Linked DNA regions of Homo sapiens: regions 2 and 3 are each reported to be linked to region 1. The links are microRNA targets in miRTarBase. Many come from high-throughput screens and were not tested one by one. Region 1 holds a microRNA gene; each other region holds the end of a gene's coding sequence.
The links. Region 1 holds the annotated microRNA hsa-miR-1203 (CCCGGAGCCAGGAUGCAGCUC, at 2,165-2,185, opposite strand). A microRNA usually pairs through its seed, bases 2 to 8, with sites in the 3' UTR of a target mRNA and lowers its output. Matches are read on the target gene's strand: a 7mer-m8 pairs with bases 2 to 8, a 7mer-A1 pairs with bases 2 to 7 and ends in A, and an 8mer does both.

Region 2: the mRNA of POLR3F is a reported target of hsa-miR-1203. Seed matches in the 3' UTR shown: 7mer-A1 at 428-434.
Region 3: miRTarBase lists TMEM127 as a target of hsa-miR-1203. Seed matches in the 3' UTR shown: 7mer-m8 at 2,260-2,266.

Annotation. Positions count from the first base shown.
Region 1 is chr17:48,154,322-48,158,768 of GRCh38, forward strand. It overlaps MIR1203 (microRNA 1203), which reads right to left and starts at 2,190; the gene lies at 2,106-2,190. The region is part of intron 11 of SKAP1 (src kinase associated phosphoprotein 1); the gene reads right to left.
Region 2 is chr20:18,483,381-18,486,380 of GRCh38, forward strand. It overlaps POLR3F (RNA polymerase III subunit F), which reads left to right. Exons shown (of 9, transcript NM_006466.4): 9 at 101-1,266. The coding sequence ends at 178. It also overlaps the pseudogene RPL21P3. Among named protein-coding and RNA genes, the nearest start is that of RBBP9, 12 kb to the right of the region's middle.
Region 3 is chr2:96,251,045-96,254,044 of GRCh38, forward strand. It overlaps TMEM127 (transmembrane protein 127), which reads right to left. Exons shown (of 4, transcript NM_017849.4): 4 at 1-3,000. The coding sequence ends at 2,764. Among named protein-coding and RNA genes, the nearest start is that of TMEM127, 13 kb to the right of the region's middle.

The sequences.
Region 1 (4,447 bases):
CACGTGTTCCACGCTAAACTTGACTTTGTCTGTATGGCTCCCTGTTTCCACATCAATTCCATCAGCAAGGAAGATGACCCAGACCCTGGTGTGTCTGGGCCATGAGAATACCTTCCCACCCCAGCTAAGCCACCGTGTAAGTATAAATCTTATGCGTACCCAACTTGTTGCTCCAAGGCTGCTTTCCATGGAAATAAGGCACTGGACAATTCCTTGGAAGAGCCTCAGACCAATTTATGAGGCACACAACCCAAGCCCAAGAGATGTACACTGGCTCAGTTTACCTTAAATGGAAGATCTCACCCAGTGGCCTCTTCTCCTTCCTAGTCAATTGAAAAAGAGCTTCTCTTTCCCTCTTTAATTTGTCCTTATCTTCTGAACAGCTCATGTTACCACCATAAATAACTTATGGAACAGGATGCTTTTAAAAAAAATGGGCGTTTAAGTCTTATCTTGGCTGGGCGTGGTGGCTCACACCTGTAATCCCAGCACTTTGGGAGGCCAAGGCAGGCAGATCACTCGAGGCCAGGAGTTCAAGACCAGCCTGGCCAACATGGTGAAACCCCATCTCTACTAAAAATACAAAAAATTAGCCAGGTGTGGTGGCTTGAGCCTGTAATCCCAGCTACTAGGGAGGTTGAGGCAGGAGAACCGCTCGAACTCAGGAGGCAGAGGTTGCAGTGAGCCAAGATTGTGCCACTGTACTCCAGTCTCGCAGTCTGGGTGACAGAGCAAGACTCTGTCTCAAAAAAAAAAAAAAGTTATCTTGAATAGTGGAACAAGCATGATGATGATGATGATGATGATGATTTTTATTTTTTCTTGAGATGGAGTCTCGCTCTGTCATCCAGACTGGAGTGCAATGGCATGATCTTGGCTCACTGCAACCACTGCCTCCCGGGTTCAAGCGAGTCTCCTGCCTCAGCTTCCCTAGTAGCTGGGACTACAGGCACGCGCCACCATGCCTGGCTAATTTTTGTATTTTTAGTAGAGATGGGGTTTTGCCATGTTGGCCAGGCTGGTCTCGAACTCCTGACCTCAGGCAATCCACCTGCCTCGGCCTCCCAAAGTGCTGGGTGAGCCACCACGCCCTGCCAACAAGCATTATTATTATTTGGAAAGAATGTTCCCTAGTGAGAGACACTGGAGCCAAGAAGACAGGGTCACTTTTCTGAAAGCTAGGACTTGTGACTTGTCTTATCCAAATAGAGGCTTCTTACCTCTTTTTCTCCCACTTATAACAAGTGACCATAGGCCAAGCACAGTGGCTCACACCTGTAATTCCAGCACTTTGGAAGGCCGAGGCAGATGGATCACCTGAGGCCAGGAGTTCGAGACCAGCCTGGCCAATATGGCAAAATCCCGTCTCTACTAAAAATACAAAAATTAGCTGGGTGCCGTGGCACTTGCCTGTAGTCCCAGTTACTCAGGAGGCTGAGGCAGGAGAATCGCTTGAACCCGGGAGGCAGAGGTTGCAGTGAGCCGAGACCGCGCCGCTGCATTCCAGGGCAACAGAGAGAGACTCCGTCTCAAGAAAAACAGAAACAAAAACAAGTGACCACAGTGGTGCTGGTCCACAAAAGGGTCTTGCAATCTGCAGATAAAAGGAACTAAGCCAGGGCACCACACTATCACACGGAGGGTGATTCGGCACCTGCCCTGTCATGCCTGGTGCCCAGGCCGAATGGATTTTTGGAGTACACCTGTTGTTGAACCCCTGCCAAGTACTGATGGCCACTAACCCCCAAATCACTTTTCCCCACTGTTGATGTTTGGAATGTCAGACAGGACTGAGCAGCAGCCGGCGTGTATTTCAAACACAGCAGATGGATTTTTATATTAGCTCCTATTTCATGTTCAGGCAGAGCGACCGCCACGCTAAAACCACAGCCTCAATGCTGCCGAGTTTGCTTCTGTGAGATTAATTCTGTGAAATTAATTGGGACAAGATTGAAAAGGAAATTAAAATGCAGCTGAGTGAACAGGCCTTTCAAACACCTTTTCCCTGCTCTATTCAAACTTGAATTCTGCGGTGGTCGCCGGCATCGTGGGAAGTAATTTACGAGTCGCAGGCTCTCAGGAGCCATTGGTTACGTATGAGGAGACCTGCACCAGCGCCACAATCTGGAGCCACTGAAGAGCGCTAAACACCCTGCTGTGGCTTGAGCTGCATCCTGGCTCCGGGGAGGAAGGGAAGTTTAGTCCCTCACCAGAAAAAGCTGTTCAGAAATATCTGAGTCCAAAAGGAACACAGGAACATCCGCTGGATGCACAGATCTGCTTCGTTATTAAAATCTCCCTTTAATATATTTTGAGACCCAAATTGGAACTCAGTGAATTAAGTGGGCATGACACTGCATGGGGCCAAGGAATGCATGGATGTGATGCAGGGAGGTCAGTGGGAGTCCTCCTGCTGACTGTGCCACTGGTTACTGTTTCAGAGTTTGGATGTGTGGCTCTGGTCTCTCCACAAAATGAAGTTTGAATAATCTGTCAGGGACGAAAGCTCTCAGACCAGGAAAGGCATGGTGGATTTTCATGTAGGCCTCTTCACTGGGTATTTTTTTTTGTATCCAAGTGAGCGACTTTTGTGCTGTAGATCATCTCTTTTTCAATAATTTATTGAACTCCTAGTATGTGCCCAACACTGATCCAAAAGTTTATTATTAGTAAAAGGGAAGGAAATATTCCTACTTCCTACATGCCAGGCACTTCCTTACACAAATTCTCTAATGTAAACATCACAACAAATGTATAAATATAAAATTTCCCAATTTTTACAGGTGAGGAAACTGAAGATTATCAGGATTAGGAGATTTTTGCCCAGGGTCATAAATAACCCGTCTGTTACAGGCACTTACTTGCTTCCCTGAGAACAGGACAGGTGATGGGCACTTGGTTATCTCTGGGGAGCATCTTTTTTTTTTTTTTTGAGACGGAGTCTCGCTCTGTTGCCCAAGCTGGAGCGCAGTGGCGTAATCTCGGCTCACTGCAACCTCTGCCTTCCAGGGTCAAGAGATTCTCCTGCCTCAGCCTCCTGAGTAGCTGGGATTACAGGTACCTGCCACCACACCCAGCTAATTTTTGTATTTTAGTAGAGACGGGGTTTCACCATGTTGGCCAGGCTGGTCTTGAACTCCTGACCTCAGGTGATCTGCCCGCCTCGGCCTCCCAAAGTGCTGGGGTTACAGGTGTAAGCCACCGTGCCCGGCCTCTTTTTTTTTTTGAGACAGGGTCTCACTCTGTTGCCCAGGCTGGAGTGCAGTGGCACTATCTCAGCTCACTGCAACCTCCGTCTCCCGGTTCAAGCAATTCTCCTGCCTCAGCCTCCCAAGTAGCTGGGACTACAGGCATGCACCAGCATGCCCAGCTAGCTTTTGTATTTTTAGTGGAGACTGGGTTTCACCATGTTGGCCAGGCTGGTCTCGAACTCCTGACCTCGGGTGATCTGCCAGCCTCGGCCTCCCAAAGTGTTGGGATTACAGGCATGAGCCACCACACCTAGCCACTGGGGAGCATCTTTCTTGCCCAGTCAATCATCTTCTCTGGATAATTTTTTTTTTTGAAAAGGGATAGCCGGACATGGTGGCTCACACCTGTAATCCCAACACTTTAGGAGGCCGAGGTGGGTGGATCACCTGAGGTCAGGAGTTCGAGAACAGCCTGACCAACATGGCAAAACCTTGACTCTAATAAAAATACAAAATTAGCTGGGCATGGGGGTGCAAGCCTGTAATCTCAGCTACTTGGGAGGCTGAGGCAGGAGAATTGCTTGAACCCGGGAGGTGGAGGTTGCAGTGAGCCAAGATCATGCTATCGCACTCCAGCCTGGGCAACGAGAGCAAAACTCTGTCTCAAAAAAAAAAAAAAAAAAAAATGCGATAAATAGCTCTCTTTCTGTGATCATTCTTGCCCAAAGGCAAGACTAAAAGATTCTCCTCTGGGCCGGTTGCGCTGGCTCACGCCTGTAATCCTAACACTTTGGGAGGCCGAGGCGGGCGGATCACGAGGTCAGGAGATCCAGACCATTCTGGCTAACACAGTGAAACCCCGTCTCTATTAAAAATACAAAAAGAAAAAAAAAAAAAGAAAAGAAATTAGCCAGGCATGGTGGCGGGTGCCTGTAGTCCCAGCTACTCGGGAGGCTGAGGCAGGAGAATGGCGTGAACCCAGGAGGCGGAGCTTGCAGTGAGCCGAGATTGTGCCACTGCACTCCAGCCTGGGCCACAGAGCGAGACTCTGTCTCAAAAAAAAAAAAAAAAAGAAAAAAGAAAAAAAAAGATTCTCCTGAGTTTGGTCCTAGGCTTCTAAGATTCAAAGTTGGATCATGCTTGGGTGACTATTAAGAAACAGCAGAGGCCGGGCGCAGTGGCTCACGCCTGTAATCCCAGCATTTTGGGAGGCCGAGGCGGGCGGATCACGAGGTCAGGAGATTGAGACCATCCTG
Region 2 (3,000 bases), not on the chromosome of region 1:
AGTTTGAAAGTTTTGTTTTTAATCTTGCTTTAAATAAGTGGTTGGGTCTTAGATATTTTAAAACTTTAATTTGAATATAATTTTTTTTTCTTTTTTAAAGGTTTTTGATGACTGCCACGAAGGTGGTGAGATTTCACCATCTAACTGTATTTACATGACAGAGTGGCTCGAATTTTAATAGAGAGCTATGAACTTTATTGACATTTTGCAAATGAAGTTACTTAGGGAGCAGATAATTTAATTCATGATGGAACACGAAATCTCCTTGAAAGCAAACTTCACAATAATGGACGTAGACTTGCTGCTATGAAAACATATTTTTTTTATTTATGAAGACTAAATTTATATTGGTAAAATAGCCAGTAGAATATGAAAGAAATAAGGTTAGTAGTGAAATTCATTCTTCAATAAATAAAACACTTTGAAACTCCGGAGGACCACATCTTTCAAGACTTCTGATGGGTCAAGGAAAAAGATGCCAACATACCCGTATTTACCAAGTACTATGATAATGGCTAGAGTATAAAAATGTTCTTTTTAAAGTTATTTATTAAGTTCTTCATTGGAAGTTTTTTTTTATATCTGGTTCACTACCACCATTTTCTGTTTCCTACTTTCTCAGTGGTTTCATTGAAAAGAAATTAGAAGGGGTTAAAGGCAGGAATAGCAAAGAGTGCAAACTTGGGGTATGACTGGGGGAGAGTGGAACATGCCTTTTCCGCACAATATTAATTCCTTTTTGTATCAGAAATGTTCTTTTAGGAGATTATGCTACCATACTTACTTCAAACCCAATGACTACTGTCAAGGACATATTTTCAGTACATAAATACTATCATTTTCATTCTAAAGAATATTTTCACTGTTCCTTCTTTCTTAAAGTCTTATGTTTCACTCTTTAACTCAAATGTATTCTTTGTTAGAATTTACCCTAGATTCTTATTTAATGTCTGCAGTAGACTGAATGTTTGTGTGCCCCCAGAATTCTAATGTTGAAATCTCATTTCCAATGTGATGGTATTTGGAGGTGGGGCTTTTGGTAAGTGATAGGTCAGGAGAGTAACAGCGCTCATGAATGGGATTAGTGCCCTTATATAAAGAGACCCAGAGAGCTCCATCACCCCTTCTGCCATGTGAAAGGGAGAAGACAAACATCCACGAACCAGGAAGTGGGTCCTCACCAGAAAACAAATCTGTAAGCACCTTGATCTTGGACTTCTCAGCCTCCAGAATTGTGAGAAATAAATTTCTGTTGTTGATAAACCACCAGTCTATGGTATTCTGTTATAGCATTAACTGAAACTAAATATACTCCGTGCCCTCCATTCACACTTTATTTTGAGAGAGGGGATAACATTCTTTTTCTCTTACTCTGTTTTAGATTTATTTCCCTTCCTTATTCTGTTCTAAATCATGGTGTGATGTGTCTAAGCAGAAAGCCATTATAATTGTCCTCAGTTCTAATAACACTTTCAGTTCCTATGGTCAGCCACATAGAAAACACTAGGTTATTTGATGTATTGTTGCACAGAAGTTGACTGTGCGGCTTTTTAGAATTGCAGCTTCATATTTTCACTTTGTAGCTCCACTTAGAAGTTTCTGTATCCAAGCCAAAAACATGGGACCCATGGAAAGGAATTCAAGCTCCACTAGTACTGAGGGTTGGGTTCTAATACCAGTTTGGAGATGCTCTAAGTGGATATCAGAAGAGTTATTTTAAGATAAATGGTATCAGTAAAATAAAATTCAGGCCACATTCTGTGAATTAGCATTTGATGACACTAGCTCTTTGTAACAAAAATTATTTCAAGTATTGAATATACATACATATATAAGATACACAGCCTTTTGGCCAGAACCCCCATCTTCCAGTAATTTGCCAAAATGATGAACACAAACGGAAAGAGGAGAGGCACCCGATATATGTTCTCTAGGACTTTTAGAAAACATGGAGTTGTTCCTTTGGTCACGTATATGCGAATCTATAAGAAAGGTGATATTGTAGACATCAAGGGAATGGGTACTGTTCAAAAAGGAATGCCCCACAAGTGTTACCATGGCAAAACTGGAAGAGTCTACAGTGTTACCCAGCATGCTGTTGGCATTGTTGTAAATAAACAAGGGCAATATTCTTGCCAAGAGCATTAATGTGCATACTGAGCACATGAAGCACTCTAAGAGCCGAGATAGCTTCCTGAAATGCATGAGGAAAATGATCAGAAAAAAAAAAGAAGCCAAAGAGAAAGGTACCTGGGTTTGCCAGGGATGGTGGCTCACGCCTGTAATCCCAGCACTTTGGGAGGCTCAGGCGGGCAGATCACGAGGTGAAGAGATCGAGACCATCCTGGCCAATATGGTAAAACCCTGTCTCTACTAAAAATACAAAAATTATCTGGGCATGGTAGCGCACACCTGTAGTCCCAACTATTCAGGAGGCTGAAGCAGGAGAATCGCTTGAACCTGGGAGGCGGAGGTTGCAGTGAGCTGAGATCGCGCCACTGCACTCCAGCCTGGTGACAGCGAGATTCCGTCTCCAAAAAAAAAAAAGAGAGAAAGTTACCTGGGTTCAACTGAAGTGCCAGCCTGCTCCACCCAGAGAAGCACACTTTGTGAGAACCAATGGGAAGGAGCCTGAGCTGCTGGAACTTATTCCGTATGAATTCATGGCATAATAAGTGTTAATAAAAGATCTCTGGACTGTAAAAAATTATATATATAAATATATATAAATATAAATATATATATAAATATATATAAAAATATATATGTAAATATAAATATATATATATGTAAATATAAATATATATATATATATATATATATATATATATATATATATATATATATATATATATATATGAAGGATCTGGGAACCTGAAACTACAGACAGAGGGTTTCTCTTCCACCCTCAGTGAGAGTTGGAATGGTAAGAACAATGTCTGTCCTTCCTGGGACTTGGCCTATCAAAAAGGCACTAGTTTTATGTAGTAAGAAAAATGA
Region 3 (3,000 bases), not on the chromosome of region 1:
GGATGCAGCCTGAAGAGCTCAGGGTTTGAAGGTTGGGCCTTGGGCGGGAGTCAGCTACTATTTCTAGCTGTTCTAGAAAGACCTAGAAACTTCCTGTGTGAAAACAGGATTAGGAAGCTCTGGGGGTGAAAATGCCATGCACGGAGCTGGCCCATGCCAAGTCCCTTCTAACTATTTTAAATTACATCTTTGGCCAGGCACGGTGGTTCATGCCTATAATCCCAGCACTTTGGGAGGCCAAGGTGGGTGGATAACCTGAGGTTAGGAGTTCCAGACCAGCCTGGCCAACATGGTGAAACCCTGTCTCTACTAAAAATACAAAAAAATTATCTGGGCATAGTGGCGCATGCCTGTAATCCCAGCTACTCAGGAGGCTGAGGCAGGATAATCGCTTGAACCCAGGAGGCAGAGGTTGCAGTGAGCTGAGATCATGCCACGTTACACTCCAGCCCGGGTGACAGAGCGAGACTCTTGTCTCAAAAACAAGAAAAAGAAAAAAAAATACAGCCTCATCAACATCTCCTGCTTCTCTGAGACAAAGGGAACAAACCAAATCAGGAAAATCGTGACAGAAAAATGACAGGCAGCCATTGTCATTTCCATTCTTATTCGTGGTTTCTGGTTTTTTTGGTTTTGTTTTCCCTTTTAATTTTTTTCTAGAAAAAAAAACACAACCCGGGGAATTTATATGACAAACTATCAGTGTCAGGATGGCAGAGGGAAAGAGAAAGAAGAGGAAGGCCAAAGACATGGGGAGTGAATAAAAAGTGGGTTCCGGATCGTGCGGAACAGTCCACAGGGTCATTTACAGGTCCTCAGGAGATGACCAGTCCCTTTGGCATGCAGGTCCAGTGCCTGGTCTTCTGGTCTGCCTGCTCAGACACCCAAGGGCAGAGAGAGCTGGCCACAAGTAAACCTGCCAATGACAAACTCAGGACTTAACAGAAAGACTTAGTTCAGTTCCTTGGCTTTGTGCTCAGGCATCACATAGCAGGCAGCCTGCAGCCTTTCTTGCCTGAGAGAAGAGTCCAGAAGAGCAGGAGAGTCACCTTTGAACACACTCTGGCATCACAGCAGTGAACTGCAAGCAGCCACTGGCTCGTGTGCAGATGTGGCCCTCACCACCCATGCAGGCATCTGTCCGGACATCCCCAGTCAATCTGGCCAAAGGATGGGACATGACAGTCCCTTTCTAGCCACAGCTTCATAGTGTTGTCCATTCTCCAGTCTTGCTCAAACTATCTATCACCTTAAAGGTTGGAAGAGATTGGAATCCATTTCCTTTTCAGCTCAGCAGGGGACACTGATTCCCAAGAAGCAAGTAACTTAACAAGGACAGGTTGGCCATCTGGATCTACACTGAAGGTCTTTCAAGTTTCATCCACTTTATGCCCAGATCTCAGGGCAGAAAATTCAGCCAGACCCAGAGCAAACAAGGTGACCAGAGTGATGGCTGAGCAAGAAAGTCCCAGCAGCACACTGCAAGACCAGAGTACATTCAAGAGGGGAGAGGGCACGTGGCAAGCTGGAGTCCCGAGTCAGAGTCTAGGGCAGCACTGGGTCTGAAGGACACAGCCCGGCCTGCTGGGCTGACAGTGTGGGTCTGATGCCTCACATGATGTGGCCCCACTGGTTGTATTCCTATGTGGAGGGTGGTGGGTTCCTGCCCTGTTGTGGCCCCTGTTCCTAAACTGAGGCCAGGTTCCATCTCAGTGCTGCAGTCCTGAGGAGCACCACGCTGGCCCGCCAGCCAGGCCACAGTCCTCAGCCCCTCTGGGTTCCACGAGAAGGCCCCAGGGAGTCACCGTCACTGAGAGGGAAGGGGCCAGGGAAGGGAGGCTGCATTCTACTGGGAGAGACTCGGGGAGGGACTACCATGGGCTTGGAAGGAGCTACAGCCCCAAATATTGCAGAGCCAAAAGGAATGGGATACATGTCTAAAAAGTGACAACAGTCTTGTCCCTATTTTAAAAACAGAATATTGTTGCTGTTGCCTGGTTTCATTTTTTTCCTTTTAAAACCACTCATATTTAAAAGGTGAAGGGCTGGGAGATGTAGTCCCCTTCACTCTGGTCCTTGATAGGCACCAGGGGGCCTCAGTCTCACGCTGGCTCCTGCTCTCCTTGCCTGGGCTCCAGCCACATGAAGCAAGGGCAGAGAGGGTTGCAACTGCTCTGCCTTCCCAACAGCGATTCCCTCTCCCCATAAAACCAGGGCACACGTGAGGAGAAGTCCAAAGAGTAAAGTGCACAGAACTCCCCGGAGCAGGTGGCCTGGGGGCGGGTCACTCCGAGAAGGAAGGGGTCTGGGGGGCGTCAGCCCAGAGCTACAGCTGTGGAGCAAACACTGATCCCTGTGAAGTGAGCCTCCAGGGCACAGTCCCCTTTCCCTTGGGCCCTTTGACACTTGTTTTTGGGACTGTCCGCTCTCAGCAGCTCTCCAAGGAAAGTCTCGGTCCCAAAGATATCGCCCATGCTGGAGGAAACTTGGATGACCTTCCCTGGCTGGTAATGACTCGTGAATGTGAAGGGGGCAGGATGTGGCAGGAGGGAAAGAGTACATTATAGAAAACCAGTGGACCTCCGGTTCTGAGAGCAGGGATACTTGGATGACCCTAAAGGCAGAGTCTCTCCTGGGGAAGGTTTGGAGAAGATGGTCAGGATCCTACCAGTGAGGCCTGCTGGGGAAAGGAGCTCCTCTGGGTGCGAGAGGAGCTGCAGAGTTGAGGGAGGGGCTGCCGAGGAAGAGAGCCCAGGGCTGGCATTAGGGTGTGTAAGCAGGGGGTGGCTGGAACTGGTTGATGACCTCATATTCCGCCGGGTAGGGCTCGTTCTCTTCCATCTCTGAGAGCAGCTCCAGCGCCTGCTCCTCTTCCTCTGTGGGGTAGTGGCGCAGGAGGTTGGCTGCCGTGGCCAGGATTGAGGCTCCACCAGCTCCTGCCACCAGGTAGAAGCTAACGGCGAAGGTGACATAGACCTGGGATCCATGGTACTTCTTATG